Linked DNA regions of Homo sapiens. The protein of the gene in region 2 interacts with the protein of the main gene of each other region in a biochemical or structural test. Each region holds a gene or a part of one and is shown on either strand. Other genes may lie near its edges. The genes, in order: UTRN, SNTB2, DGKZ and MAST2.

The links.
Region 1: the proteins of SNTB2 (region 2) and UTRN interact in a test that uses a peptide from one of them, tested with the Homo sapiens proteins (one study listed by BioGRID).
Region 3: the proteins of SNTB2 (region 2) and DGKZ form a complex in vitro, tested with the Homo sapiens proteins (2 studies listed by BioGRID and IntAct, with this or other methods).
Region 4: the proteins of SNTB2 (region 2) and MAST2 form a complex in vitro, tested with the Homo sapiens proteins (one study listed by BioGRID).

Annotation. Positions count from the first base shown.
Region 1 is NC_000006.12:144,281,231-144,288,337, forward strand, and holds the start of UTRN (utrophin), read left to right. Parts: upstream 1-4,104; 5' UTR 4,105-4,591; intron 4,592-5,267; exon of another isoform or gene 5,268-5,440; coding exon of another isoform or gene 5,441-6,049; exon of another isoform or gene 6,050-6,724; intron 6,725-7,107. Other genes in the region: uncharacterized protein LOC124901418, read left to right, coding at 5,441-6,049.
Region 2 is NC_000016.10:69,182,334-69,190,163, forward strand, and holds the start of SNTB2 (beta-2-syntrophin), read left to right. Parts: upstream 1-4,830; 5' UTR 4,831-4,833; coding exon 4,834-5,413; intron 5,414-7,830. UniProt on the Homo sapiens protein: Adapter protein that binds to and probably organizes the subcellular localization of a variety of membrane proteins. May link various receptors to the actin cytoskeleton and the dystrophin glycoprotein complex.
Region 3 is NC_000011.10:46,342,892-46,350,473, forward strand, and holds the start of DGKZ (diacylglycerol kinase zeta), read left to right. Parts: upstream 1-4,571; 5' UTR 4,572-4,768; coding exon 4,769-4,929; intron 4,930-7,582. UniProt on the Homo sapiens protein: Diacylglycerol kinase that converts diacylglycerol/DAG into phosphatidic acid/phosphatidate/PA and regulates the respective levels of these two bioactive lipids.
Region 4 is NC_000001.11:46,023,605-46,030,624, reverse strand, and holds part of MAST2 (microtubule-associated serine/threonine-protein kinase 2), read right to left. Parts: intron 6,854-7,020; coding exon 6,645-6,853; intron 4,949-6,644; coding exon 4,810-4,948; intron 2,895-4,809; coding exon 2,762-2,894; intron 1,858-2,761; coding exon 1,692-1,857; intron 1,160-1,691; coding exon 1,058-1,159; intron 795-1,057; coding exon 672-794; intron 497-671; coding exon 387-496; intron 19-386; coding exon 1-18. UniProt on the Homo sapiens protein: Appears to link the dystrophin/utrophin network with microtubule filaments via the syntrophins. Phosphorylation of DMD or UTRN may modulate their affinities for associated proteins. Functions in a multi-protein complex in spermatid maturation.

The DNA.
Region 1 (7,107 bases), on a different chromosome or scaffold from region 2:
GCCTCATTTCCTCAGAACTGGGCCATGCTTCCTACCACCTGTGCAGGTTAAATTGCCAGGAATAGTCCTAGGGTTTTACCAATTGTAGGTAACCTCCAGGGTGGTCCGAATCGAATGAAACACTTGAATTCAAAGAGATAAAGCTAATCACGGGTATTTCATAATTATGATTGATTCAGTATGGATTTTTTTTTGGTAGGGCAATTTCTTGACCCCTCCAATCATCCAAAGTGGCCTATTTAAGGCCAGCACCCCAGGGCACAGGGGCTCAAAGTGTGGCTCCTCAGCTATTCTGATCTAAAGCTAAGGCATGTTAAACCTGCAGCTTCCTGGGCCCCACCAGGCCTAGTCAATCAGAATTTCTGGGGAATGGCAATCAATCTGAATTTAAAATATATTCTCTGGGTAATTCTTGAGTGCATTAAGTTGTAAGGAACTCAGCCTTTGTACTATTTATTTTCTAAAAGTTTCATGTGCTATTATTTTTTGTTTCTTCAATTCTATTACAAAAATTTATATGATAAAATTTTATCAACTCGCACACATACTAGACGTTTGACTGAAGAATTTACCAACAATACTCAGCAAAAATCCAGTATCTATTACACACAAGCTCCAGATTTATACTTTTTTTACCTGAAAAATATAAGAAAGGCTAAATTCCCTAAACTTTCCTCCTCTCTTAAATGCTTGTATGTGGGGCTTTAATTATAGTCAATACCAAAGGTAAAGCTAAAGGAGTGTCTTGTTTTTTTATACATTGTGTATTTTCCCCTGTTTCTACTGTTTAAAGAAAAACTGCATTTATATAGTCTTGCACAAAGTTTAGTAGCAAATGTTTTCCTTTTGGTTCTTATATTAGGATGCAGTTCCCTGTATGGGAATAATATTTATGTGAATCATGTCTATATACACTATACACACATATACATATATCTTTATATATGAATCTATATATACACTACTCATATCATAATTTTCTCCTTTGTCAAAGGCTTTCTATCCTGCAGTGACACTAACTCCATTTTCCTTAATTTTCACAGTTCTGTGGTGACAGCAGGGCAATTCTGACTTTGGGTTACCAGTAGACCCAGGGCCACATTCCTATTATTCTCTCCAGATGTTCTACAGCGATCTGATCTTTGGGATGAGCAGACAAAACCCCACTGAGCATCCTTGTTGCAGGCCCATTACCTTAGAGGCCTGTCTCCACCGTGCCTCACCTAGATTCTCTGGATATAAAGGAAGATCACACTGTGCTTTATGGAAATATAGCCCTCTGTGGTCAAGATCGCCCACCAAATGTGGTTTCCCTACCAAATAAAGAAAGTGTTGGGGGACAGGACCAGCACAGGACCAGCTTGAGATCTCTTGATCGTTCCATCAACAAGAATTCCGCCCTCCCTCCCTCCCTTCCTCTTCCTTCCCTCCCTCCCTCCTTTATTTCTCTCTTTCTCTCTTTCTTTCTTTCTGACAGTCTTGCTCTGTCACCCAGGCTGGAGTGTAGTAGCGCCATCTTGGCTCACTGCAACGTCTGCCCCGGGGTTTAAGCGATTCTCATGCCTCAGCCTCCTGAGTAGCTGGGATTATAGGCATGTGCCACCACGCCCAGCTAATTTTTGTATTTTTAGTAGAGACAGAGTTTCTCCATGTTGGCCAGGCTGATCTCGAACTCCTGACCTCAGATGATCCACCTGTCTCGACCTCCCAAAGTGCTGGGATCACAGGTGTGAGCCACTGCACCCAGTCAACAAGAATTTCTTTAGCCTCTTTTGCTCATTACCTACAAAGAGCATCAGTCTCTGCCTGGAGAGAAGGGCTAGAAACAGATAGGGCACAGGTCCCCAGGTAACTGGCTGTAAGCCACTATGGCTGATATGCGGGGCAGGTCACTCCTGCACAGAAGGTGGCTTGTTGGCCTCCTGTTCCATCTCTTACAGGCGTTGAGGAAGCTCGACTAAACATCTCCTCACAGCTTACAATCCCAGAAATCATAGGACCCTAAACGTGCGTTTTTCAAAATTTTTGAGCTAAAATGATGTATTACTTTGTAAATTGTGAAAAGTGTCACAAATATTAATTTAAGTGACAACATCATCAAACACTCCAATGTGGCCTTATTATCTATTTTGAAGGAGAAAATCTGAGTTTCATCAACTCAACCAGGATACAGTGAGTGATAAGCAACTTTTGGTGTCTGCAAAATGATCAGTTAAAAAAAACCTGGGGGCTGGGCACGGTGGCTCATGCCTGTAATCCCAGCACTTTGGGAGGCCCCGTCTCTACTAAAAATACAAAAAATTAGCAGGGCGTGGTGGTGGGCGCCTGTAGTCCCAGCTACTAGGGAGGCTGAGGCAGGAGAATGGCGTGAACCCAGGAGGCGGAGCTTGCAGTGAGCGAGATCGCGCCACTGCACTGCAGCCTGGGCAACTGAGAGAGACACTGTCAAAAAAAAAAAAAAAAGAAAGAAAGAAAGAAAGAAAAAATCCTGGAGTCCCTCTATGTGACCATACTCAGCTAGCACTTGATCTGTTCTTTTCTTATGGCATTTATCTCCCGGATCTTGTATATACTTACTTGTTTACATGTCTTATCTCACCTACTACATTCCAAGTTCTTTAAGGGTAAGATCACTATCAGATTTATCTTTGCTTTACCCACAGAACCAGCAAACCTGACAGCCCTAAACTGATGCTTGTTAAATGAATGAATGAAGTGAATGAATAAAATCATACCCATTTCAAGTTAATCCTTTGGATTTTATTTGGCTTATACGTAGAAAATCATCAAAAGGAAGGAAACTGTCCTAGAAACCTTACAAGGAAGAGTCTCTTTTGGGAATCTCCTACCTGCCCCCTCCCTGGAGCACTTAGGGATGGATGGGGGAAACTTTCACTATAACAAAAGGCGAGTAAACTCTTTCTGAAAATTAGTTTAAGGCCCCTAGTGGTTTAATCTTTACTGCCGCGTAAATTAACTCAAATATTAAGCCAGCAATAAACCGGCGCTCCAGTATCAACCATCCTTTTCTCTGTTAATACGAACTAGGAACTCAGGTTGCTGTTTTCTTTCCCCTCCCACGTGTGCTGATCGTGTAAAAGAATCACAGGAACACACGAGCAATGAAATGTGTAAATAAGAAAAATGCACACACATCACGAGCTCATTTCTTCCCAGATATTTTTTGGTCAACCTCTCAAGCTTGGAACAGGCTCTATAACAGATGTGCGTTTGTGTGTGCATATTGGAAAACAGAAAAATAAGGTCAGCGCAAACACTACTTGTAATACAAACTAATGTAAGAGAAAACTTCTTTTTCAATATTAACAACGACACTAGAGAAATAATGTAAAATAAATATACGGTTGGAACTAGGGGTAAAAAAAAAATCAGCAACGTCAGCAAACTGAGATGGGGTGAGTTGGAAGGCAGATTGGAATTTATCTCTTAAAAAAATATCACCCTAACTAGAGACCTGTTTTGCCTAAGGGGACGTGACTCACATTTTCGGATAATCTGAATAAGGGGAATTGTGTCTGCTCGAGGCATCCATTCTGGTTCGGTCTCCGGACTCCCGGCTCCCGGCACGCACGGTTCACTCTGGAGCGCGCGCCCCAGGCCAGCCAAGCGCCGAGCCGGGCTGCTGCGGGCTGGGAGGGCGCGCAGGGCCGGCGCTGATTGACGGGGCGCGCAGTCAGGTGACTTGGGGCGCCAAGTTCCCGACGCGGTGGCCGCGGTGACCGCCGAGGCCCGGCAGACGCTGACCCGGGAACGTAGTGGGGCTGATCTTCCGGAACAAAGTTGCTGGGCCGGCGGCGGCGGGGCGAGAGCGCCGAGGGGGAGCCGGAGCGCTGCAGAGGCGCGGGCCGGAGGGCTGGCGCTGATCTGCACCCTTCTCATCTGGAGAGCGGACCCCTGGCTGCCCGGAGGCGAGCCCCTTCCCGGGGGGTGGGGGCGGCAACGCGCGACCCAGCGGTCCTGCGCCCCACCCTCCCTCCTCCGCCTCCAGCGCTCGGCTCCAACAAAGGGGCAGGCCCGCAGCGGGGAGGAGGAGGAGGAGCCGCCGAAGGAGCGAGCCTCTCTCGCGCACAAAGTTGTGGAGTCGTTTTTCCTCGGAGCAGGGAAGCGGGCAGCAGCAGCCGGCCGCGGGCTTTCTCCCGCCGAGGGGCGAGGAGGAGCCTCTGGCTCCAGAAGCCGATTGGGGAATCACGGGGAGCGGCGCCCCCCTTCTTTTGGGTCATTTCTGCAAACGGAAAACTCTGTAGCGTTTGGCAAAGTTGGTGCCTGCGCGCCCCTTCCAGGTTTGCGCTTTGACTGTTTTGTTTTTGGCGGAACTACCAGGCAGGAAGATTGCACAAGTAAGGGGCGTTTTCAGTCGGGTGTCAATTTCTCTTTCTTTCTTTCTTTTTTTAAAATTTCGGTTCGTGTCTGCTTCTCCAAGCTTTATTTTTTTTTTTAAATACATCGCACCACCAAACTAACACTCGCACACACCCCCGCGGTTACTCCGTGTCAAACTCCTAGAGGAGCCCTTGGCCAGCTCGGGGTGCGGCGGTGGCGACCGGCAGGCGAGGAGGCCCGCGGGCAGCAGGTAAGCCCATGCATTATTGAAGCCTCGGGCTGGTAATGTGACTACAGCCCCCGAGGGAATGGGGCGGGGGCCGGGAGGAGGATGGCTCTTTCTGTGGTTCTTCCGCCTGGGATCGGCGTCCCGAGCTGCTTCCCAAGTCCCAGAGTCGAAGATGGGAGTAACTTTTGCGTGCCCTTTCCTCGGGGCCTCAGTTTAGCTCCCCGCGGTGCGAGAGAGAATGCCGGAGGCGTGGAGAGCTCGGGCGTGGAGGTCCTTGGGATCCGTACTAGTTGTGAACGATCCAAACTTATCTGACCAGCTCTGTGCTGCCTCCCTGCTCCCCTAATCTTCCTCCCCGCCGGGGTGACAGAGTCGCCCTCCGTGCATCGCGCGGTGCAGGGCGCTGGGCCAGTGATTTGCAAGAGGGGACGTGGCCTCTTAGGAGAGTCTGTCACAGACACCCGGGCCCGGGGAAGGCGGGGCTCCGGCGGTGTCCACAGGAGAGGGTGGGCAGAGGGTGGCTGTGTGGTCGGCGGCCAGCGGAGCGCTTCCCAGCCAGCCGCCCGGCGGGGAACGTGCTTGACCTCTGGGTGGTTGCTGCTCCCAAGGGTGGGGCTCCGGAGAGTGTGGCGCGATCGCCAAGCTCCCTGGCAGCGGCCCTGGAGAGACTGAGGGGACAGGAGGAGGGGGGCGCCCCATTGGTGTGTAGTCCCGCGCAGTCGCCGGCTCTCCTTTTCCGGACTCTGGGGATCTCTTGCTGCAACTGACAAGGTAATTCATGCCCCGCTTTGGCCCGGGGTCCGAGGCTGTGGTTGCTCAAGGCCACTTAAAAACCAACAAAGCACCAATTGAAGGCTGTGCAACTTTCAGATGGCAGGTTGTTCAAAGGATTTTTTCCTCCAAGCCTCAGATTATGAAAGGGACTCATTCCAGTGCGTTTTTCGAGGAGGAGGGAGAAAACGTTGCCCGACCTCCGAGAGAGCTGTGGGACCAGCACTTTATTTTACAAGGAACTGCAGAGCTCGGGTTCTAACTCCACGGCCCCGCTCTCTGAGGTGTTCAGGACAGGGCCTCCTCTTTCCCAGCCTTCAGGTCAGCCGGATCACCAGGGCCTTGCGGGCCAGTTCCCCCTGCCGCGGTTGGGAGGGTCAGTGCAGCGGTCGCCGCGGCCAGAGCGCGCGGAGCTCGGGGGAGGCCGGATTCCCTAGGTCTGAGCCGACCCTCCCGGCCGCCCGGCCGGGCGGCAGCGACCGCATCCATTCCTTTGTAAGTTGCACCGGCCTCAGGAAGTCGATCTGGGCCCTCCCGGTTCGTTGGCGGTGGGCGTGGGAGACGCAGCCTGCGGATAGCTCAGGGTCAGGGGAGAGGTGGAGGAATGCGAAGCTTGTGGGTAGTTCTGCGGTGACGGACAGGGTTGGCGTGGAACCATTCCCCGCCCCTTTTACCAGCCTTTATGGGACCGATGAGACAACTCTTTAACTCTCCTTTGGGTGTTTACCTAAAATTTATTGGCTCTGTAAACAGTATTAATCACAGTAGTATTAACCTTCCCTGGAGCGCTTCCGAGTGTAAATGGCAGTTCTTGGCACTCACCGTTTTCTTTTACTGTGTTTCAAGCAGAGCAGCAAACTCTTGTCCGCTTGGCTTCCTTTTCTACTATCTCAATCGTTCCTAGGTTTTGGTTCCTATAGTAAATTAATGAATAGTGTTTGCATTACACAGCATTTCCATCATAATGCACACTGTTGGATATATATGTGCTATATACATAAAATATAGTACAAAATAAAAATTATATACATATATTCATTGTATAATTCCTAAAATCTTAAAAAATTGAAACATTAGTTTTGTCTTTAAGGCTGTCACCTTATGTTTATTTTTTAAACACCTTATGTTTATTTCATACACTCTTGCTTGGTGGTCCATATGACAGCCGGAAGCGTTCTGAAGGGAGAGTTAGTGAATATCGACTTGACTGGATTGGTTTCAGTAAGAACATCTGGCTTTTACAGAATATCATTTGAGGGAAGGGAAATCTAGGGCAGAGGTAACAATAAATTGCATTTGTATAGGGCTTGAAGCTTCTAAAGCAACATCTCATTCATTGATTCTCAGTTTCTCACCTAGCCTTCTGTGAAGATGGTGTTCCCTCCATTTTATAGGTGTGGAAGACGGAGGGTCACACTGGGATGCATTGTTCGTGGTGAAACTTTGATTCTGTCTCCTGAGAACCAAAGATTCTGCATTTGGCAATTAGAAGGAGTCATCCTTTGCCTTAAGTGTACTCAAATTCCTCTGGCCATTAATGGCAAGTAACCTCAGTGGCTATCACTATTTAAATAGCCTTCTGTTATTCTTCTTTCTCCCCATTTTCCTCTGTACTCTGATCACCTTTTCTGCTGTATCTTTGCAACCTGTAAGGGATTTTCATTATCAAGAAGAGAAAAATTTGAAAAATCACCTTGAGGAGAGTGGCAAGTGAAACATTATAGTGAAGAAGTGTTACTGATAATGGGCAAATGGAATAAAGTAGT
Region 2 (7,830 bases):
CTCAGCCTCCTGAGTAGCTGGGACTACAAGTGCATGTCACCACGCCCAGCTAATTTTTGTATTTTTAGTAGAGATGGGGTTTCACCATGTTGCCCAGGATGGTCTGGATCTCCTGACCTCGTGATCCCCCCGCCTCGGCCTCCCAAAGCTCTGGGATTACAGGCATGAGCCATCATGTCCAGCCTGAAAATAATCTTTAAAGGAAAAATTATCAAGTAATCCCAATACCAATCTATCTCCATTAGCTACTTCCAGGGTTAAATATTTTGTTATATAACTTGCTGTCTTATGTAAGTGCCCTCACTATTAGTTAGCAGATCTGTGACTTACTCCAACTCTATTGGCAAAAAGGTCTTGATAGTCTTGCAGAGAATTCCCAGCACTTCCCTTCTGCTAATAAAGGTGTCCTCAAGTGCCCAACTCCTGGGTAATTACAAATGCAAAAGTGTTAAAAATAGCACTCATACTCTAAGGAATCAGCTGCGAAACACTCTCTAATAAGCAGAAATTTCACATAACTCAGGCCTCTGGGGGCTCACGCCTCAGCTGGAGCAGAGCCAGAACGTCTGTGACCGCAGGTGCACTTGGGCACATTGGGACCTGCTGGAACAGCAAGCTGGCCTCTGCAGTTGATTTAGGAGAGGGCTGGAGGGTTGAGCTTTTGCTGACATTTGCAGCTTGGAAAATCCGACTCCACTAATCGCAAAGAGGATTCTGCTGTAATGATTTTTTTTTTGGTAAGATACTTTTCTCATTTTGAATTCTTTCTTCATTTGGGCTCTGGACACTTCCCAGCCTCTACATTTATTATTTTAACTTCTGTTACAGGAGGCTCTTCAGAAGTTTCTGCCTGCACATGAACATGCATTCACAGAGTGGTGCACGGCCACGGTTTACGAGCCTCAACGTGCACTTCATGAGCAAGCAAGTTTACAGCCCCTTTTACAGGAATTGGTGCACATTCCCTCTGCTTGCCCCTGTCCCTGCCCACATGAAAACACAGGGATTTTTTGCTACTACTGCTGAAGAAAAGTTAGAGGACACCTTGACCTCATGATTTTGCTGAGCACTTGCTTTCTTAACAGTGTGCTTTCTGGACCCTTAGTTTATTTTTTATTTTTTTAATTTTTTTTTTTTTTGAGACAAACTCTTGCTCTGTCGCCCAGGCTGTAGTGCAGCGGTGCGATCTCGGCTCACTGCAACCTTTGCCTCCTGGGTTCAAGAGATTCTTGTGCCTCATTCTCCTGAGTAGCTGAGATAGGGGTGTGTACCACCACACCTGGCTAATTTTTTTTTTTTTTTTTTTTTGTATTTTTAGTAGAGATGGGGTTTCACCATGTTGGTCAGGCTGGTCTTGAACTCCTGACCTCAAATGATCTGCTTGCCTCACCCTCCCAAAGTTTTGGGATTATAGGCATGAGCCACTGTGCCCAGCTTGGACCCTTATTTTTGAGGTCTGAAGGGTACTGTATAGTGAAAATAACCCTGGATCCAGAGGCTGGTAGTCCTGAGTTGTCTCTGCCTCCTTCCTATGGACTTTGGGCCATGGTCTTTGGTCTTTGGCTCTCTGGCCCTCAGTTTTCTTAGCTCTTCTAGTCCATGAAGCTGGAGGAGGTGGGTGGGTTGTATCATTCATGTCTGAATAAAAGCCACTGCAGGCTCTGCAATGTGCACAGCAGTGGCTCATGGCCTTTGGTCAGGGAAACTTCCTGCCAATTGGATGAATCACAGGCTTCAAAAAAATACCTTAGAGACCAAATTTTGCATACAATTTTTGGGAATGCCCACGTACACTTGCCCCAACAAAAGGCCATGGCCTCCAGGCTAAGAAAGTCAGATCTGCGGCCAGGCACGGTGGCTCACGCCTGTAATCCCAGCACTTTGGGAGGCCGAGGCGGGTGGATCATGAGGTCAGGAGTTCAAGAACAGCCTGACCAACATGGTGAAACCCCACCTTTACTAAAATACAAAAATTAGCTGGTGTGATGGCACGCGCCTGTAATCCCAGCTACTCGGGAGGCTGAGGCAGGAGAATTGCTTGAAACTAGGAGGTGGAGGTTGCAGTGAGCTGAAATCAAGCCACTGCACTCCAGCCTGGGTGACAGAATGAGACTCCATCTCAAAAAAAAAAAAAAAAAAAGATCTATAAAGTCAAGTTCAAACTCCTCGATATTTTGTTATGCTTTTCAGCTGGGCGTGGTGGCTCATGCCTGTAATCCCAGCACTTTGGGAGGCCGAGGCGTGCAGATCACCTGAGGTCGGGAGTTCAAGACCAGCCTGGCCAACATGGAGAAACCTTGTCTCTACTAAAAAATACAAAATTAGCCAGGCGTGGTGGCACATGCCTATAATCCCAGCTACTCGGGAGTCTGAGGCAGGAGAATCGTTTGAACCTGGGAGGCAGAGGTTGCAGTGAGCCGAGATCGCGCCATTGCACTCCAGCCTGGGCAAAAAGAGTGAAACTCTTGTCTCAGAAAAAAAAAAAAGATGCTTTTCACACTCATATCCTCCCATTTCCACTGACCCTATGCTCTGTTCACATTGGAATTCTAGCATCTTCCTAAGTAACCATCTATGATGTTAATTTTGTGTCAACTTGACTGGGCTAAGGGATCCCCAGGTAACTAGTAAAACATAACCTCTGGGTATACCTGTGTGGGTGTTTCAGGAAGAGATTAGCATTTCCACGGTAGACTCTAAAGAAGATCACCCTCACCAATGTGGGCAGGCAGCATCCAGTCAGTTGAGGGCCTGAGCAAAACAAAGGGCAGAGGTAGGGGGAATTCATTCTCTGCCTGAGCTGGGACATCCATCTTCTCCTGCCCTCAGACTTTGGTGAACCTGGCTCTCGGGCCTTGGCAGTGGGATGGTGACTTACATCATTGTCCCCCCACCCCAACTCCCACCCTCACCCCCTTCTCAGACTTTCTGTTTTGAGACAGGGTCTTGCTTTGTCACCCGGGCTGGAGTACACTGGTGCGATCTCAGCTCACTGCAACCTCCACCTCCTGGGTTCAAGCAATTCTGCCTCAGCCTCCCGAGTAGCTGGAATTATAAGGGCCCACCACCATGCCTGGCTAATGTTTGTATTCTTAGTAGAGACGGGGGTTTCACCACATTGGCCAGGCTGGACTCGAACTCCTGACCTCAAGTGATCTGCCTGCCTCGGTCTCCCAAAGTGCTGGGATTACAAGCGTGAGTCACCGCGTGTGGCTCAGACTTTTTTTTTTTTTTTGGAGATGGAGTTTTGCTCTTGTTGCCCAGGCTGGAGTGCAGTGGTGCAATCTTGGCTCACTGCAACCTCTGCCTCCCGGATTCAAGCGATTCTCCTGCCTCAGCCTCCTGAGTAGCTGGGATTGCAGGCGCCTGCCACCACACCTGGCTAATTTTTTGTATTTTTAGTAGAGACGGGGTTTCACCATGTTGGCCAGACTGGTCTATAACTCTTGACCCCAGGTGATCCACCGCCTTGGCCTCCCAAAGTGCTGGGATTACAGGTGTAAGCCACTGCACCCGGCCCAGACTTTCTTTTTCTTTCTTTCTTTCTTTCTTTTTTTTTTTTTTTTTTTGAGGCAGAGTTTTGCTCTTGTTGCCCAGGCTGGAGTGCAATGGTGCCATCTCAGCTCACCGCAATCTCTGCCTCCCAGGTTCAAGCAATTCTCCTGCCTCAGCCTCCCAAGTAGCTGGGATTACAGGCATGTGCCACCACGCCCGGCTAATTTTTTGTATTTTTAGTAGAGATGGGGTTTCTCCATGTTGGTCAGGCTTGTCTCAAACTCGTGACCTCAGGTGATCCGCCCACCTCAGCCTCTCAAAGTGCTGGGATTAAAGGCTTGAGCCACCGCGCCCGGCCCAGACTTTCAATCTCAGGTTTATACCACTGATTCTGGGTCTCAGGCCTTTGGGCTTGGATTGGAAGTGCACCACCAACTTTCCTGGGCCTGCAGTTTGCAGATGGCAGATCGTGGGACTTCTCAGCATCCATAATCTCGTGGCCAGTCCCTTGTAATAATAATAAATTTATATATCTCTATATATCCTATTGGTTGGTTTCTCTGAAGAACCCTAAGACACCATCATTCTGCAAATATCCTTGAGGCCTGCCAATTGTGGCTTCAGGGTTTAAGAAGACATGGTTCCCTCTTGAATTACAGGCAAGTAAACGAGATTACAAAACATTGACAAAGGCTTGGATCATGCTGTTGGACCTTTGCTTGAGCTGTTCACCGTCCGTTGTTACCTCTGTGAAGCTGACCCCAGGCCTAACCAAATGTTCCTTTTATGCTGTTCTGGGGACGTCTTCTGCATGTCACTTAACCACATAGTATCACACCTAGTTGGTTGGTTCTGCATTTTCCTTCCCCACTAGACCGCAAACTCTCAGCTGTTGTTGGTACTATTGAGCTTAAGTACAGGGCCTCAAAAGGAGCCGGAGTACAGGGCTAAGCGCTCAGTACACAGGGTACGAACCAATCAATGCAAGAATGAACGTGCCACCGGGTCTTGCAGGCTTGAGAAGTGTTTCTCCAAGCTGATTTTGCTTTCCGTGCCCGGGCAGCTCCCGTGAATTGCACGGTAGAGGTCAGGAGTTTCTGGGGGGTCCGTGGGGAGCCAATGGAAGGATGAGGAGAAATGCAGTCCCACCGCATTCGGGTTGCCCACGTCCGGCGAGAGGCGAGTGATCGGACAACTTCTGCACCTCCCGGAAGCGGCTGCGCCGGCCCCGCCCCTCCAGAGGCAGGCGTGGCCTCATGAATAATGAATCGTGCGGGGGAGGGGCCGGGCCCGCCCCTCCGGGCGGGAAGAGGGAAGCGCCGAGGCTGCCTGACTGGAATGAGGGTAGCTGCGGCGACTGCGGCGGCTGGAGCGGGGCCGGCCATGGCGGTGTGGACGCGGGCCACCAAAGCGGGGCTGGTGGAGCTGCTCCTGAGGGAGCGCTGGGTCCGAGTGGTGGCCGAGCTGAGCGGGGAGAGCCTGAGCCTGACGGGCGACGCCGCCGCGGCCGAGCTGGAGCCCGCTCTGGGACCCGCGGCCGCCGCCTTCAACGGCCTCCCAAACGGCGGCGGCGCGGGCGACTCGCTGCCCGGGAGCCCAAGCCGCGGCCTGGGGCCCCCGAGCCCGCCGGCGCCGCCTCGGGGCCCCGCGGGTGAGGCGGGCGCGTCGCCGCCCGTGCGCCGGGTGCGGGTGGTGAAGCAAGAGGCGGGCGGCCTGGGCATCAGCATCAAGGGCGGCCGCGAGAACCGGATGCCGATCCTCATCTCCAAGATCTTCCCCGGGCTGGCTGCCGACCAGAGCCGGGCGCTGCGGCTGGGCGACGCCATCCTGTCGGTGAACGGCACCGACCTGCGCCAGGCCACCCACGACCAGGCCGTGCAGGCGCTGAAGCGCGCGGGCAAGGAGGTGCTGCTGGAGGGTGAGCGGGGCCGGGCGGGAGGGTGGGCAGGCCGCGGCGGCCTGGGCTCGCGGGAGCTCACTTTGTTCCTGCCCCGCCGGCGGGGCGAGCCGGTTCTCTCCCCGTCTCTCTCCAAACCCGGGTTTCTGGAGCTTTCAGTGTGGAAAAACGGATGCTTCTTGCAGGAAAAGTTGGGCAGCCGCCGAAGTGTGGCTTGCAGCCCCTAGGGAAGACTCGGCTGAGATTGAGTAAAAAGCAGCTGCCTATGAAGCCCCACCTCGGCCCGATAAGCTGACACTAAGAACTTGAGGGAGAGCGAACGGCTCGAGTGGGTCTGTCTCCGTTTGCCCGCTGAGAAGTGCCGGGTTGGCGCTTAACTCACTCACCTCTGGCTCCTCGGGGCGGGCGGGTCTATTAAAAAAAAAAAAAAGTCCATCTTCACCGATGCCAGCGGTATGCTCGGGCAAACCACCAAAGCGCTGGTTAATTTATGGGAATTTAACCCATCATTGGCTCTCAACAATAACCAAAGGAGATCATAGCATTTCATTGAAGCCAGAAAGCTGAAACAGCAAGTCTGTGTGGTTAACGAACCTTGTTTAACAGTGGAGGCTCACGTGTTTGAACATTTACTGCCAACTAGAGTTTTGCCCCTTTTGCAAGTCTGCTGCCAGCTTCCTACCACTCACAGGCGCGCTGCTTCAAGACTCTTGGGGTTTTTGTAAGAAACTTGAAATGGCAAATCACAAGATAGGTTTCAATAACCAGGATTATTCTTTACGTTAAGTTATATGTATGTGATCTGTAAGTTGGATCTTTCATGATGAATTTGAACTAAGGCAAAAATAAAATTCCTCTCCTCTAAGGACTCATGCATGTTGGAGGTGATAGAGTATTGTAAATTATAAACGAAAAGTCAGCTGCTTTCTTCAGAAATTTTTGAGCGGTCAGCTTTCTTTCACTGGTGATTATGGCTAGCTGTGTTGAAAAGAATATAAAAGAAGATGCTGTCCCTACTTGGTCTCTAGTTGGAGAAATGATAGAAAAATGCAAAACAACTTATAGGGAGGAAAGGAATGAAGTTGGTGATTACGTCGTGAAACTATACTTAAATGCCAAAGGAATGCAAAGTTAGAAAATAGTTAGTGGAGATGGAATTAGCCAGGGAGGACTTTTTCCCGAAGCTGAATCTTGAGCCAGGTCTCCAAGAAGTGATGGACATAGGCAGGCAGGGATGAGTCAGGAGGGTATTCCTGGCAGAGGAAGGACAGAAGGGAAGGGCTGGGGGCTGCTGGTGAAGAAGGACCAATCGTCAAACCGAGAGGCCAGAAGTCCAACTTGGCACAATGGATTTTCACTTTCTTATAAATCAGCTTGTGAATATTTGGAAAAATACTGATTTACCAGAAATGATTTCATGTACACCAGTTGTGAAGTTCCAGTGTCCCACCTTTATAATATCCTATTTATAAACCTTATTTATATTGCATGTCTAGGTGGGGCTAGACATTGCTCGGAAATTAGTGTTAATAGAAGGAGTAAAATTATAGATTGTGGTTTGGGTGTGTGTCCAAAAAAAACTGTTACTCTAAACGTGTACCTTGAAGTTGGTCTAGCTAAGCATTTGGTTATAAATTCTTACATCCAGAATATTGAATTTAGTACTATTTATGTAGTCCTCAGTTGTGATGGGCAGACAGTTGAACCTTGTACACCATATTTAGAAAAAAAACACAAAAAACCTTTTGGCCAGGCGTGGTGGCTCATGCCTATAATCCCAGCACTTTGGGAGGCCAAGGTGGGCAGATCACCTGAGGTCAGGAGAACATGACGAAACCTCGTCTCTACTAAAAATACGAAAATTAGCCAGGCGTGGTGGCAGATGCCTGTAATCCCAGCTCCTAGGGAGGCTGAGGCAGGGGAATCGTTTGAACCTCAGAGGTGGAGGCTGCAGTGAGCCAAGATCTCACCACTGCACTCCAGCATGGATGCCCAGCCTGGATGACAGAGCAAGACTCCATCTCAAAAACAAACAACCAACCTACTTTTTGTATAGGTATAGTTTGAACCTAGTATTCAGACCAGTAAAATGAAAACCTTGCAGTAAATGCTTCCCAGTCTTTATTGGGCTAAAATAGGCCACGTGTGCTTTTAGAAAGATGGCCGCATAATAACATGTTTATTGAATGCCTTTTTACCTAACATGCAGGTTCTACTTTATTTTCCCACTTTGTACAAGACAAGCAGTTTTTGTTCTTATAAGTAGTGAGGAAGTCAATATAGTAGATTTACGACATTGCATTTTCAAGCCACTGGGTGTAAAAATAAAATTACTCAAAATATGTAAAACCACTGAAAACAATGATTTAATTGAACCAGTCAAACATTATTTAAAATTGAGAGCTGGTGTCCCATCCAGGTAGGCCACTTTTAAAAGA
Region 3 (7,582 bases), on a different chromosome or scaffold from region 2:
GGCGGGCAGATCACTTGAGGTCAGGAATTCAAGACCAGCCTGGTCAACATGGTGAAACTCCGTCTCTACTAAAAATACAAAAATTAGCTGGGCATGGTAGCGCACGCCTGTGATCCAAGCTACTCTGGGGGTTGAGGCACAAGAATCGCTTGAACCTGGGAGGCAGAGGATGTAGTAAGCAGAGATCACGCCACTACACTCCAGCCTGGGTGACAGAGTGAGGCTCAGTCTCAAAAAAAAACAAAAAAAAAGCAAAAAAAGGAGGAAAATAACAAGATCTACCTCCTAGAGTCATTAAGAGGATTCAAAGAGCTACGTTACATATTCAGTAAGATTTTTGGCACAGAAATGTTCAGGAACTATTAGCCATTGTTTTATGATTACTGAGTATTAATTATTAATTGCATAGCATGCATTTATTAAACAAATATTTACTGAAAAATATTATGTTCCCATCATGAGGGACACAAAGGTGATTACAGCACCAGATGGAGGTTTTTAAGGGTCGGGATAGCATCTTGAAGGGTTCTGTAGCATAAATGTTTACTGAACTGAACTGATGCTGTTTCTGTCCTCAAGAAATTCACAGTAACAAACACATATACAACTAAAGAACTAGTTATAGAGCAGGGCGATTAAAGAATGCTTGAGGAAGGTACAGTTTCCTTCCTAGAACCAGTCCTAAGAATAAAGAGTGAATATATGCCCTAGTATTTATTTACCAAATCCTCACAATGGCCTTGAACTCCAGCACAGTTTGGCCTCTGGAGATCTTTCCAGCTCCTAACGCATTCCCCCTGGCTCCCTGTTCTCTGGCCATGCTGGCCTTTTTGCAATTCTCCAGACACAAATACATTCTTTGTTCCATGCCTTTGCTCTGACTCTACTTCCACCTAGAATGCTATTCTCCCAGGTAAGTCACATAGCTCACGCTCCCCATTCATTCAGGTCTGCTCTCAAATATCACCTCCCCAGAGAGGCCCTCCCTGATCCCCTCCCCCTGCCTAAGTCACTCTCATCACTCTTCTCCCTTCCTTTGGCTTCATTTTTCTTTATAGCACATCTTTTTTTTTTTTTAGACAGAGTCTCATTCTGTTGCCCAGGCTAGAGTGCAGTGGTGTGATTTCAGCTTACTGCAAACTCCGCCTCCCGAATTCAAACGATTCTCCTGCCTCAGCCTCCAGAGTAGCTGGGATTACGGATGTCCACCACCACACCCAGCTAGTTTTTGTACTTTTAGTAGACAGGGGGTTTCACCATGTTGGCCAGGCTAGTCTCAAACTCCTGACCTCAAGTAACCCACCAGCCTCAGCCTCCCAATCTTTATGGCACATCTTGTTTGCTGACATTATATTGTACATAGATTGTTTGTTTCCTGAATGTCTTCCCCACTAGAATCTAAGCTCTGTGAGGACAGAGCCCTGCTTCCTTGTTTTTAGAGCTATGTTCTCCGATACGGTGCCTGATGCACAGAAGGCATTCAATAAGTATTTATTGAATGAATTAATTTGTCAACCTTCCTATCTCTTCTTTATTCCTCAGATAACACCATGAGCTCAATTTTTTTTTTTTTTTTTTGGAGACAGTGTCTCACTCTTGTCACCCAGGCTGGAGTGCAGTGGCGCGAACTCGGCTCATCACAACCTCCACCTCCCAGGTTCAAGCGATTCTCCTGCCTCAGCCTCCCAAGTAGCTGTGATTACAGGCACCTGCCACCACGCCGGGCTAATTTTTGTATTTTTAGTAGAAATGGGGTTTCACCATGTTGGCCAGACTGGTCTCAAACTCCTGAGCTCAGGTGATCTGCCCACCTCGGCCTCCCAAAGTGTTGGGATTACAGGTGTGAGCCACCATGCCTGGCCTATTACTCCACTTTACAGATGAGAAAACTGAGGCTCAGAAAATCTCCCTGGCACATGTATTCATTAGTTTATTTGTTTATAGGCTACCTTGTCCCAAAAGTTATTTAGAGGACTCCGAGAGGTTTATGACCTGATCCAGGCCACACAGAGCTGGTAAGAGGCAGAACAGGACACATGCTCATGTCTCCAGGCTCCATCCTCATTGCTCATTTCTCTACACCACCTTCCTGTATGCCCAGCCCTGTGTAAGATGGTATGCTGCACACAGAAGTGCTAGGAAGAGAGCGCTCTTTGAGGGCTGGGCACACCCAGCCATTGTACCTGGTGGTTGTCATAAAGCGGGAGACCTCAGCAGGACCAAGAGTTGAAAATCAGACAGTTTAAATGGAGAGGAAAACCAGACAGGAGCCCAGGTGCAGATTCCAGCCCAAGCAAGCCCCATGGCTGCCTCCTGGCTGCTGGTCTGGGCTTGTCCCCACCTGCCCCTTGCTTTCTTGTGCAGCTCTTCACGGCAGCTGGCCCCAGCCAGCGGAAGGCGCCTATGAGCCCTGAGCCTGTGGTCCTCAGCTTGGGCGGCCAGCGGCCTCTAGCAGGCCCCCCCCTCGACCCCACCCCCGTCAGGAAGTGCCGAAAGAGGAAGAGAGTCGCCGGGCAGGATGAGCGCACCGGGGGCTGGCCACAGTGCCGGGGGAAGCTGCAATGAATCCTCAGCTCTGGGCCCAGTGGAGGCGCTGGGGACGGAAGAAGGGGAGCGGCCGGGGTCACTGAGGCAGATGTGGCGCTACCGCTCCTGGGACGTGCCACAGATCCCATCAGAGGCACCCCAGACACAGTAGGTACAAGGGGTGGCCTGGGAGTGGGCATGGGACCTCTGTCCCTCTATGAGCCTTTTATCTGAGATGGGGGTGACAGAAGTAGGGTCACCCATCTGTCATCCAGCACTCTGCAGAGGCACAGAGTAGGGCAAAGGAGTTATTGGCAGGGTGCAGGGAGCTCTGATGTTTGGACTGTGTGGAGGAACTGAGCTCGAGAGAGGCCAGGAGTTGAGCAAGCTAGCAGTGGGGGGATCTGGGAAGAGGAGCCCCCCCAGGAGTGTGGCACTGGATGCTGGAGATTTCTGACCCAGCTGCAAGGCCTTGTGGAGACTCCGTGGGGTCTTCAGTTGCCTCTGATCTCTTCTCTCAGAGCTTGGAGTAAGAGCCATTGGGAAACTTCCCCAAAAGGACCCATGCACCCCAGAGGCCAGTTGTCAGGCATACTTGGGGATTGATCTGCCCTCCTCCTGGCCACCCTGGCACCAGCTGCTGGCTGGAGGGCTGGAGCCCCACCTCCCTGATCAGACCTTCTCCCAACTTGCAGGAAACTGGGAGAGGGTTCTGGGCCTCGGGGTGCTGGTTCTTCCTCAAAATCACAGGCTTGTCCGCAGGTCACAGCCCTAAGCATTGGCTATTTGCGGCTGACTAAGGCTGGAAAACGGGCTGCCAGAACCCAAGAGGGGAGGATGAAAGCGAAGGTGACACAGGATGTGGCTTGGCAGAGAGGCGTGCACACAGAAGTAGTGGGCAGCTGGTGTGGGCAGCAGGGTGGTAGGGTTTGGGGAGGTGGAAGACCATGCTTCCCAGCTCCTGGCCTCCCTTCGTCAGCCCTGCGGGGGCCATCAGAAACAGCCCCGGTGTGTGTGATGGCTGTGCCCCTACAGGTGACTGCTTGGGTTCCAATTGCTCTCATTTCTGGAGGGGGACGGCCTCGGCTGCATTGTGGGGTGTCTTTGTGTGTGCATGTGAGGTATATTTCTGGATGGGAGTGTGTGCATATGCACACACATACATATGTGTGAGGGATGTGGCAACCGGTAACCATTGTCCTGGGAGTATTTGTATGTAGGAGAAAGGTGTGTGTTCTGTGTGGGCATGTGTGCTTGTGAATGGGAGTGTGGTACCTGTTGTCCTTCTGTGTATTTGTGAGTGTGTAAGGGCTGTGCAGGTGATTCCCGTAGCATATGAGATCTATAGGTTCTGTTGAATACTATGTCAGGAAAATGCGATGTGTTGGGCCTGGGTGAGAAGGTTGGAAACCATTGTGAATAGCTGTGGAAGGATGACTTTGTAGGAGAAACTTGTGAGTTCTTTGTTGGTGTGTGTGCGAGTCATTAAGTGACTTTGGTCACTGAGTGCGAGAGGCTGGGGTGGGAAGTGTTCGTTTAAGTAATGAGTGGGCATAATTGTGTAAGGGATGTGTTTGTTCTGCGTGCATGGGGAGCACTGTGTGACTTTTGTTCCCCTGGGTGCGATTTGGGGGAGCCAAGGAGGTATGGGTGGAGATTGTGAGTGGCTATGAGTAGGGTGTGCGAGAGCGGAGGGGAGGTGGTGACAGCAGCCCTCGCGAGTGTACACTTGTGAGCGTGCAGTTGTTTGGTAGCGGAGGGATCGGGGGAGGAAAGATGCGCGTCTGGATGCGCGCAGTGCGAGTGTGCCAGGCCGGGAGATTCAGTCCCATCCAGGCGGGCCGGGCCGGGCTGGGGGCAGGGCTTTCTGCTGCCCCGCCCATTCGTCGCCCCGCCCCTCGGACCGCCCCAGCGGGCTGCAGCGCAGCGGGCGTCCGGCAGAGGGCGCTGCGGGCCCGGTGCCACCGTGCGGCCGAGGGGGCGTGCTCGGCGGCGGGCAGGCAGCGGCCCGGCCAGCTATGCGGGGTCCTGCGGCCGCGGCTGGCGGCACTTCCTGGAGCGGCGGCGGCAGCGGCTTCCCGGGCACCTGGGCGTGGGGAGCGGGGGCGCGCGGCGCGGGGCGGGCGGAGCGAGCGCGCGCCATGGAGGTGGCGGGCGGCGCGGAGCGGGCGTGCTGAGCCCCGGCCGCCGGCCCGGCATGGGCGTCTCCCGCGGGCCCTCCGCCGGCCGGGGCTAGGGCCGGATGGAGCCGCGGGACGGTAGCCCCGAGGCCCGGAGCAGCGACTCCGAGTCGGCTTCCGCCTCGTCCAGCGGCTCCGAGCGCGACGCCGGTCCCGAGCCGGACAAGGCGCCGCGGCGACTCAACAAGCGGCGCTTCCCGGGGCTGCGGCTCTTCGGGCACAGGTGAGCGGGGCGGCGGCGGGGCAGGCACCGAGGCACCGGCAGGTTACCGCTCCCTCACCGGGGGACATTCCTCGGCCACTGGGGGTCCGGGCCACTTCGGTACTGACACTGAGTCGGGGAGAGGCTGGCACCGGCGGCACGAGCCGTCTTGGCGTGGGCACCCACTGGGAGTCATCCCCCAGGGCCGGGACACGGGCGGGATCGGTCGGCTTGGCACTGTCACCGGGTGGGGGTCATTCCCTGGCACCGGCAGTCTAGTGCGCCTCATGTGTAGTACCGTGGGAGGATCGGCTCCCAACCCTCCAGCAGGAAGATGGAATCACCCCAGCCCCCGGCACAAGCAGGTTGGGCCCCCAGGACTGGTCACCCACGCCTTCTTGGCACTGATAGAACAGGGCCTCTCTGAGCCTCCTGGCACCACTGAGGTGGGGATCACACCGCCCTTTGGACTTTCGTGGGACCAGGTTGCCTACCATCACTGCGTGGCATCTGCAGAACGTAGCCCCGTTGATACCGTCACCACACATGGCTTGTCCCCAAGCTCTGGTCACTGGTTTAATTGTTTAACATGTTAAGCTTCTCCTTGGGGTTGGGGGTGCCTGATCATCTGCCCTACCTTGCTCTTAATTAGCAGAGAGACCCCAGCCCATCCCTCTGCTAGGCAGGCAGCATGTCTCCCTCTACCCTCTTCCAGCCCATGCTGGGAAAGGGATGGGGTGGGCTGGAGTCTGGAATCTGCTGGCTGTTCAAGCTTCATCTTGCCCCCTCCCCCAGCACTCCAAATGTCACCATCTTGTGCCTGTGACAGAGCTTTGACCAGGACTCTAGCGGGGAACCGGGGGGAGAGTGTGGAAAGACTGAGTGCAGGCAGTTCATGGCAAGTGTGCTGCTCTTGGTCGTGAGCCGCTGCCTGCCCTGGTAGCCGTGGTGTAAGGTAAGGGACGTGAGGCCCCAGGAGTACCTGACCTGGCTCCCTGCGCTTCTTCCTGACCGAGCCTTGCCCTTCCCTGGTGGCCAAGGAGCTTGTAGCCAATCAGCCAAGGACCCCAGAGCCACCTCAGACTGAACTCTGACCACTTGGAGTCTGCCCAAGGCCTCCCTCTCACTTTTCTGCAGCTGCCTAGACTTGGTGGCATTCACCCCCACCCCGCCCCTTAGCTTTGCTCTGCCCCTTCCCTGGGTAGACTTTACCCACCAATAACATGGGCGGTTTTCTCCTGTCGTGTGGGCTAGCATACCCGTGATGCTGACTTGTGCCCTCTACCCGTCTCACCCGGGCTAGGGCCCACTCTTTGCACCTGCACTCTGTCTCTGAGCACATGCACAGATCTGAATTCTTACACTGGCAGATGGAGCTCCGTGGGCTCCTGTGTTACCACGCAGGCTTCAATGTCATATAAAACAGAGCAGGGAGTGAAACTTCCAGTAGCTCTGTTTTGTCACCCACAGCCCTGCAAGATGGAGCAGTTTACACCCAGCTCTGCAGGATGTAGCCTCCAGTATTCACAGGCTCCGCAGGGGGAGGGAGGGGCGCCACCAGAGGCTTCCTGTTGCTGCCCACAGGGTATCAAGTGTTGGGTTCTTCTGACCTGTGGCTGTGCCCCTTCTGAAGGGCACAGGTTTGTGGGTATAGGGATGAGCACATTCGGGAGGAAGAACAAGAAACCAGAGAACCAACAGATACCTTTATGTAATTCTCTAAAATAAGCAGGGTAGGTGGTATTCTTCCTTTTGTAAAACAAAAAAAAACCAATTTTTTGTAGAGATGAGATCTCACACAGCATTGCCCAGCCTGGTCTTGAATTCCTGACCTCAAGCAGTCCTCCCACCTCGGACTCCCAAAGTGCTGGGATTATAGGTGTGAGCCACCACACCTGGCCTGTTTCTCCATTTTTATAGATGAAAGAAACACAGTCAGAGGGGATTTGCTCAGAGTCACATAGCAAGGAAGAGGTAGAGATAAGGTTTGAAGTCAAGTTGGTGTGATTCCAAAATCCACATCCCTTTCTCTATACCAGGATCCCAAACGGAACATCACAATGGCCAAGGGAGCTTTAAGAAATACAGATTCCTAGATCTTCCCTTGGCGTGTCTGACCCATCAGGTCTGGAGGTGGGGCCTGGGCATTGTTTGAAGCTTCCCAGGTGATTCTCATGTCCCATCAAGTTTGAGAAGCACAGTAGTCCGTCACGCTGGGGAGTGTAAGTGCTCTTATAGGATGCCTGATGAGAGGAAAGAAAATTCAGCAGCACCTCTGGAAGCATGTAAGGAGTGTCCTTTGTTTGGGAGCACTGTGCTGGGGATAGTGGGGCCTTCAGAAATGAATACATTCAGAGAACCCAGTAGTATCAGGCAGAGAGCAGCAAGGGAAAGCACTTTCTCCTGGCAGGCCTGGGAGCTCACTGGGGCTGGCCTCCTTCCCTTTGACTTGATGGGGCCAAGGGGTGGGTGCTGGGGGCAGACATGTGGAAGGGTGGAATAGTACACCTGCTCTGGGTTCTGCCCCCTCCAATGCTGCTTGGCTGGTCCTGCTACCTTTGTTTGTTTGTTGCAGCCTCAGGTAAAAGTCCTCGAAGCCCCAGCTGAAACCAGCCCTTCATCTTATCCCAGCTCCATGCTAGCTCTTAACCTAGCTCTTGCTTCTCCCCAGTCA
Region 4 (7,020 bases), on a different chromosome or scaffold from region 2:
CTCCATGCTGCTGTACACCTGTGGGCACAGGGGATGCGCTGGGGATGGGCTCTGGCAGCCGTACCTCCCAAGTGGCATAAAGCATCCTTGGCATCGGAAACCTAGGAATTTGAACCAGTCGGTTCCATCCCTCCTTCACACACCCCTGCTGAATATTTGGGGAAGGAGTTATTCCACTGATCTGACCTGGCATCTCATGTCAGGGACAGCAGTGGTTCTAGAAGCACCTATATATAGCTATATGTAGCCCCAACCCTTAGCTCCTCTTTTTCTAGAGGTGGCCCCAACCCCAACTCCCTGAGCCTGCCCCAGGTGTGCCCTTTGACAGGCCCTCTTCTTCTGATCCTCCAGCCTGTTCTGCCCATTCTGGGCCTCCTCAGTCACACCTTGTTGAACCTTGGAGAGCAGGAAGAGAACTGGCGGATCTCAAGGCAGCCATCCTCACTCACTTCTTCCTCATCCTCCGAGTCCATGTGGTGGTATCGCTCTGAGCGGGCTGGGCCAGACATAAAGGACACTTTCCTTCAGAGCCCTGCTGGTGGCCTCCTTGTGACCCCATTAGATTTCAGCAGAGCCCTGAGAAGTTGCTCCCAATGCAATTTCAGTGTGCACAGGTGTTTCTAGGCAAACAGGTAGGACCCATCCTCCACCCCACCCATCGGTGGCCTTACTGTCAAAATAGCTAGTATCATCCTCTGACTCCAACTGAGGAATAAATTCAGCCTTCTGGCGGAGAAGTCCTGTCCAGTCCAGACCAGTAAAGAATGGGTGCTGCTTCACCTCATAGGCACTGCCTGTGGACAGGGAGGACATGGGCAAGGGGGTAGGATGAGCAGCATGGAGTCTAGGTCAGCAAATCTAGCAAGAAGCCAGACCTTCAGAAGCTATACCTAGGGGATCAGCTCAAGCATCTTCCCTTTTCTGCCTACAGAGCAGGGCAGAGTTTCAGGATCCAGAGGGGCTGCCCGTAACCGAAGCCTGAACCTCCAGGGTACATGACTCAGCCTCCCTTACCCCTTTTCCAAGTAGTGAGAAAAGTTAGCAGGGCCTGCCCTACCTGTGCCAAGTCTCTCCAGAGGGTTCTGGTGGAGCAGTTTGGAGGTGAGGTCCTGGGCGTCTGGGGGCAGTGCCTCATCACCCTCAGGCCACACAATCTCATCTGAAGTCATCAGGGGTGAGAGGGAAAGGAGAAATTGTGGGTAGAGTGGAGAGATGCAGAAGAGGGTCCCAGAACAGTGAAAGGAAAGGAGGCAAAAAGGACCCAGCCTGGAGCCCCTGAAAGCCTTGCCTGGGACCCCAGTCCTTAAATTCTATAGGTTCCTAGACCATAGCTTGATCTTTGATCCACAGCAGGCACTGCAAAGCTCTAGCTCACCCTGCTTTTATACTCCACAAAACATACACAGACGTACCCCTCACACTTATGGGATGTGCACATACACAGACAGGAACACCCAGGTGTATATGAGAGACCAGGTGTCTATGAGAGACATGTGAAGCCCCAAGGGACACAGTGTGCACATGTATGTACATGCAGAAACACAGAGACACCCATCCCCAAAGCAGCAGACATCACAAACACACATGATGAGTTCAGAACAAGAGCTCACAGGCCTCACGAGCTGCCTGCATACATCATATTTGTGGATTCAGACTCTGTTTCCCCACTGGGCCAGGGGCATAGTACCTACCACTGATCACCTGCCCAAAGAGCTCCTCCGGAGTATCTCCAAAAAAAGGGACGCAGCCCACCAGGAACTCATACAGGATAATGCCCATGGCCCACCAGTCCACTGGCTTCCCATAGCCCTGGCGCAGGATCACCTCAGGCGCAATGTATTCTGGGGTCCCGCATACCTGGGCACAGAAAAGCCAGGCTGGCTCAGCCTCCTGAGGCTGCTGACTGGCATGACAGCCGGAGATGGGGGATGCTCCCATCTCGAGCAGAAGAATCTCTGAATGAAGACTCAGCCCACCTTAGTTAATGAACAAGATCAACAGAAGCCCCAGGGAACAAGAGTCGGAACTGTCAGTAGGTATTTCCTAATTAACAAAAATGTCTCATTCTAGCCCGGAACTACCATCCCTTAAGCCCTCAACACCCACCTCTGGCATGTGATCCCACAATGGGCCTCTGCACTCCAGCCTCTAACAAAACAGACCCTATCAGTCATGTAACAACTACAGGGACCGGTGAACAGTCACAACCTGAAATGTCAAACCAGGGAACATCCAGAGGCTGCCTCTCAGGACACTGGGCCACAGCCCAATGGAAATTCAGAGCTGTGTTCCAAGAACCTCAGGCTCCAGGAGAGCCTTGCCCTTGATTCAGGCTGGGAGATTCAGGACTGATCTCATATGAAACTCTGTGCTAACAGTTATATGACCTATTTTCCCCAAACCCTGAGGAGGAAGATGACTTTGGATTTTATATCCATATGATTCTCAAGGCTCATCCTGTTTTCCAAATGTGCTACCTATCTCAGTGCCTCTCTGGAACCCAAAGGTAGAAAAGATAGGGGTTCCCAATCTTAACATCTAGCTACAAGGTAGGCATATGGCCCCAAGGCCTTATTCTAGGGCCTGGAATCTATGTATGTGTACACAAATGTAGAGATGGGGTCTCACTATGTTGCCCAGGCTGGCCTCAAGCGATCCTCCTGCCTCAGCCTCCCAAAGGGTTGGGATTACGGGCGTAAGACACTGCGCCAGGACAAGGGCCTAGAATTTAACCCCCAGTGTATCAACTACCCTTCCTTACCTGCTTGTCCAGGAATTCCCGGGCATCCTTTTCAATATGACCCTCATACAAGTTCGTTGTCAGACTCATGAGGCCAATTTTGGACAGTCCAAAGTCCGTGAGCTTGATGTGCCCCATGGATGTAATTAGGAGGCTGGAAGAACGAAGAAATAAAATTAAGAAGTTATTCCTGGTTTTCTGAGAGTACTGATTTTAGTATATGCCCAGTTTCCCCACTCAGGCTTCCATGGGGGTACTGTGAGACACAAGCTGGGTAGCTTCAGCTGGGGGGACAGGCAGGTGTGGACACGTAAATCGCTCTGGCTGTGTGAGTGCTGCATTCTGCACAAGCAACGAACCTGCCTTTTGCCCATTCCCACAACTCCATTTCTGCTTATTGCCCTAACTGTATTCTATGTTGGGGGCAGGAGTCATTCAGTTGAGGAACAGAGTTTCTTCTACAGAGCTGAGATCAGCCTCATCCTAAGGCAGCTGCTGGAGCCATTCCTAGTCCCCTCTCCCAATCTGAGTGGCCCATAATACTCCTGTTTCAGGGAGAGGGGCAGGGGGCACACATAATTTTGTTCCATGTCCATGGCTGGTCTTGGGAGGAGGGTTAGTTGGGAGAAACTAGAACTAAGATCCCTTTATATACTCTGCCTGAGCCACTCATTTTGTGCTGAAGGCTTTACCCTGCCACCCTTTTATTCTAATGATTCCCCAAATAGTACCTCTGGCTCTGACTTCCTTTTTGAGCTCCAGGCCTACCCAACTGCCCATGTGTCTTACAGGCTCCAGAAACTCAACCTGTCCAAAACAAAGTCATGCCTCCCAACTGGTTCCCCTCCTCAGTGAAAAACAATAATTTTGGTTATCTGTTGAGCTCTGTGCTAAGTGCTTTAAAAATATTCTGGCCCCTGAAATGTTTTCTAGAGTAACACATCAAAGGTAGGTGTAATTATTCCCTATATTAGAAAGGAGGAACGTGAGGGTCAGGGAAACTTTAATTAGTAGACTCAAACTCAGACTTAATAAGCAGAAGAGTGGCCATTTGAATTCAGGTCTGTCTTATGTCAAAGCCACTTTCTTCCACAGAGGCTTATCACCCTGCACCAGTCCCAAGCTGGAAATCTGGAACACATCCCAGCCTCTTCTGTTCCCTCACTTCCCTTCCTACCCCCACCCCAGCCTGATCCTCTTTCCTTTATACTTCCCCACACTACCCCTCTTCTTTCTATCCTGACTCCCTGTTCTGCTGCAGGCATTGCTGTCTTTCCCTGGTCTCGGTATCTCTTTGGCAGTGGTCTCAGTGTCTCTTTTCACCGGCAGAGTGAGCTTTCTAAACCTGAACCATAATCTGGGCATGCCATTCTATCATATCTTTGGTTAGCAGACCCTTCCAAGACTCTCTAGGCCCCTTTAGAATAAAACCCAAATATAACAAAAGGGCCCTTGATGAACTAGTTCCTGCCTCTCTCTCTAGCCTTTTCTCTTACTACTCTCTCACCATCTAAGCTGTCGCCATATTGCACTATTTGTAGTTCCTGAACAAGTGCTGTTCTCTTGCACCTGTGTGACTCTGCACATTCTGCTCTCCTGCTTTAGAAAGCAGGTCTTCCTTTTTCCACTTGACTAATACCCTCTGAGAAGAAGCCTATATACATATATTTCTGTCTCCCACTGTAGACTTAAGTTCTACATGCCAGGGACTACATTTAAAAACCCACAATATAGTGCTGGCACAGAGTAGATGTCAGTAAACGTCAGGACACTTGTTTAGCCATCTACTAGATGTGCTTATTCTTTTGTTCTTGCTTGGTTTCTTCAGTGGGGCTCCTCAATGACTCTTCCATGTCACCGAAGCCTTATAGTGTTCCAGCCAGACCTTGAGGCAATGATCTGCATCTGGGGTGGTCGGGGGGCTAGAGAACTAGGCCCAGATGGACACACACAGGAGCATGTTTTCCCGGTAGCCATCTGGATAGATTTAGAGCTACTGTGCTTGCCAACATTTTATCTGGAGACCCAAGAGGGAGACCCTGGACAAGGGACACAGACTGTGGACATACTTGTCAGGCTTGAGGTCACGGTGCACGATGCCATAGTTGTGTAAGTACTCCAGGGCCAGCACAGTTTCCGCAAAGTATAGACGCACCATGTCCACAGGCAGGGCCCCAATATTCTTCAGCAGAGTGGCACAGTCTCCCCCTGCAACAAGCCCAGGCTACCATGAGGAAAGGATTCAGTTCCCTGCTCTAGCTAGCCAGCTCCCATCTGGCAGTTTCTGAGGTCCCAGAGGAGACAGCTTCATGGAATATCCTGGTGCTGGAGACTCTGATTCTAGCCCCTTTGCTGCTGGCATGGGTGGGAGACAGGGTGATATGGTTTGGCTGTGTCCCCACCCATAGCTCATCTTGAATTGCAGCTCCCATAATTCCCATGTGTTGTGGGAAGGGACCTGGAGGGAGATAACTGAATCATGGAAGTGGGTCTTTCCCATGCTATTCTCGTGATAGTGAATAAGTCTCATGAGATCTGATGGTTATTTTTATTTATTTATTTTTTTGAGGCAAAGTCTTGCTCTGTCACCCAGGCTAGAGTGCAGTGGTGTGATATCAGCTCACCGCAACCTCTGCCTCCCAGGTTCAAGCGATTCTCCTGCCTCAGCCTCCCGAGTAGCTGGGATCACAGGCGTGCACCACCACACCCAGCTAATTTTTGCATTTTTTGTAGAGACGGGGTTTCGCCATGTTGGTCAGGCTGGTCTCAAATTCCTGACCTCAGGTGATCCACCTGGCTCAGCCTCCCAAAGTGCTGGGATTACAGGCATGAGCCACCACGTCCGGCCCATCTGATGGTTTTATAAAGGGGAGCTTCCCTGCACAAGCTCTCTCTTGTCTGCTGCCATGTGAGACATGCCTTTCACCTTCTGCCATGATTGTGAGGCCTCCCCAGCCACATGGAACTGTAAGTCCACTAAACCTCTTTCTTTTGTAAATTGCCCAGTCTCTGGTATGCCTTTATTAGCAGCATGAAAATACACAGGGTATGGAGGGGGGTGGAAAGTAAAGTGAATCTGCTAATAGCTGTCATGGACATTTTTCAGGCCAGAGAGGGAAGGAACCCAGGCCTTTATTAAAAGTAATGGCAAACATGCAATTACTTTTGTACCAGCCTAATGTTTTTTAGGACAGGAATACTGCATACTGTAAACACATCTGGCTGAGATGTTAACATCTGTTCATGTTACTTCCTTCTTACTGGCTTTTAGTTTCTGAGTAAAGTAACACTATGAACTCCCAGCATGTACCCAGTAAACACTAAAGGACAGTTTTGTTCAGCTTCAGCTTCAAGACTAGGCACAGTATCTTTGGAGGCTGTACACACAGTGAGAAGGTGAGAGGGAAGGGAAACTGGCAAAGCTGCTGCCTCCCTCCAGAACTATGCCCCATGTTGCTCTTCTGTTCTATTCTCAGAGCATTTTGCTTGGTTTTAAGGGGTGTCCCCTTTGCAAGCCAGTCAGGGTAATTAATGGCTTTCCTTTCTTCTGAGGGTCCAGATGCAAACCTCCTAGCACCTAATCCTGGGCTTTTGTAGCTCTGCTGCCTCCTCTGTTGCTGTCTGATACCAGCAGTAGAGAGCGTGCAGGCTTTGGGGTGCAAGATTCTATAGCTGCTGGCCTGCTACATCCTATCCCAGAATGCCTCTCATGGTAGAGGCAGGGAGCTTTGTGCCCACTGTGGCCAAATGGTCTCTGTGATCCTGAGGCAGAAACCAATGCCAAAGGTGGACTGGAAAGCTGGGCCCTGAAACTTCACCTCTGTACAAAGCTGCTGGTCCCTGTTTAAGGCTAAGTCTCAGACTGTGCCTTGGCCTCCATGCCAGGCCACCTTTGCCTCAGTACCTTCAACGTACTCCATCACCATGCACAAGTGGCGCTTGGTATCAAAGGAGCAGAACATGCTGACCACAAAGGGGTTCTCAGCGAAAGTCAGTATGTCACGCTCCACGAAGGCCTGCTGGATCTGGTTCCGTAGGATCAGGTTCTGCTTGTTGATCTTCTTCATGGCAAAGCGCTGCCGGGTGGACTTGTGCCGCACCAGAAATACAGCCCTGGGAAACAAAGTCCGGCCCATCCCCCATGGACCCTCAGCACCTGAGCTGTGCTCTCTGCCACCCAAACTGCCTTCTCTCACACCTTAATTAATGCACAGAACAAGGGGGCAAGGGCATGCATATCAGTGAGAAGGGTCTGGGACCCCCTGGTCCATAGAACTCTT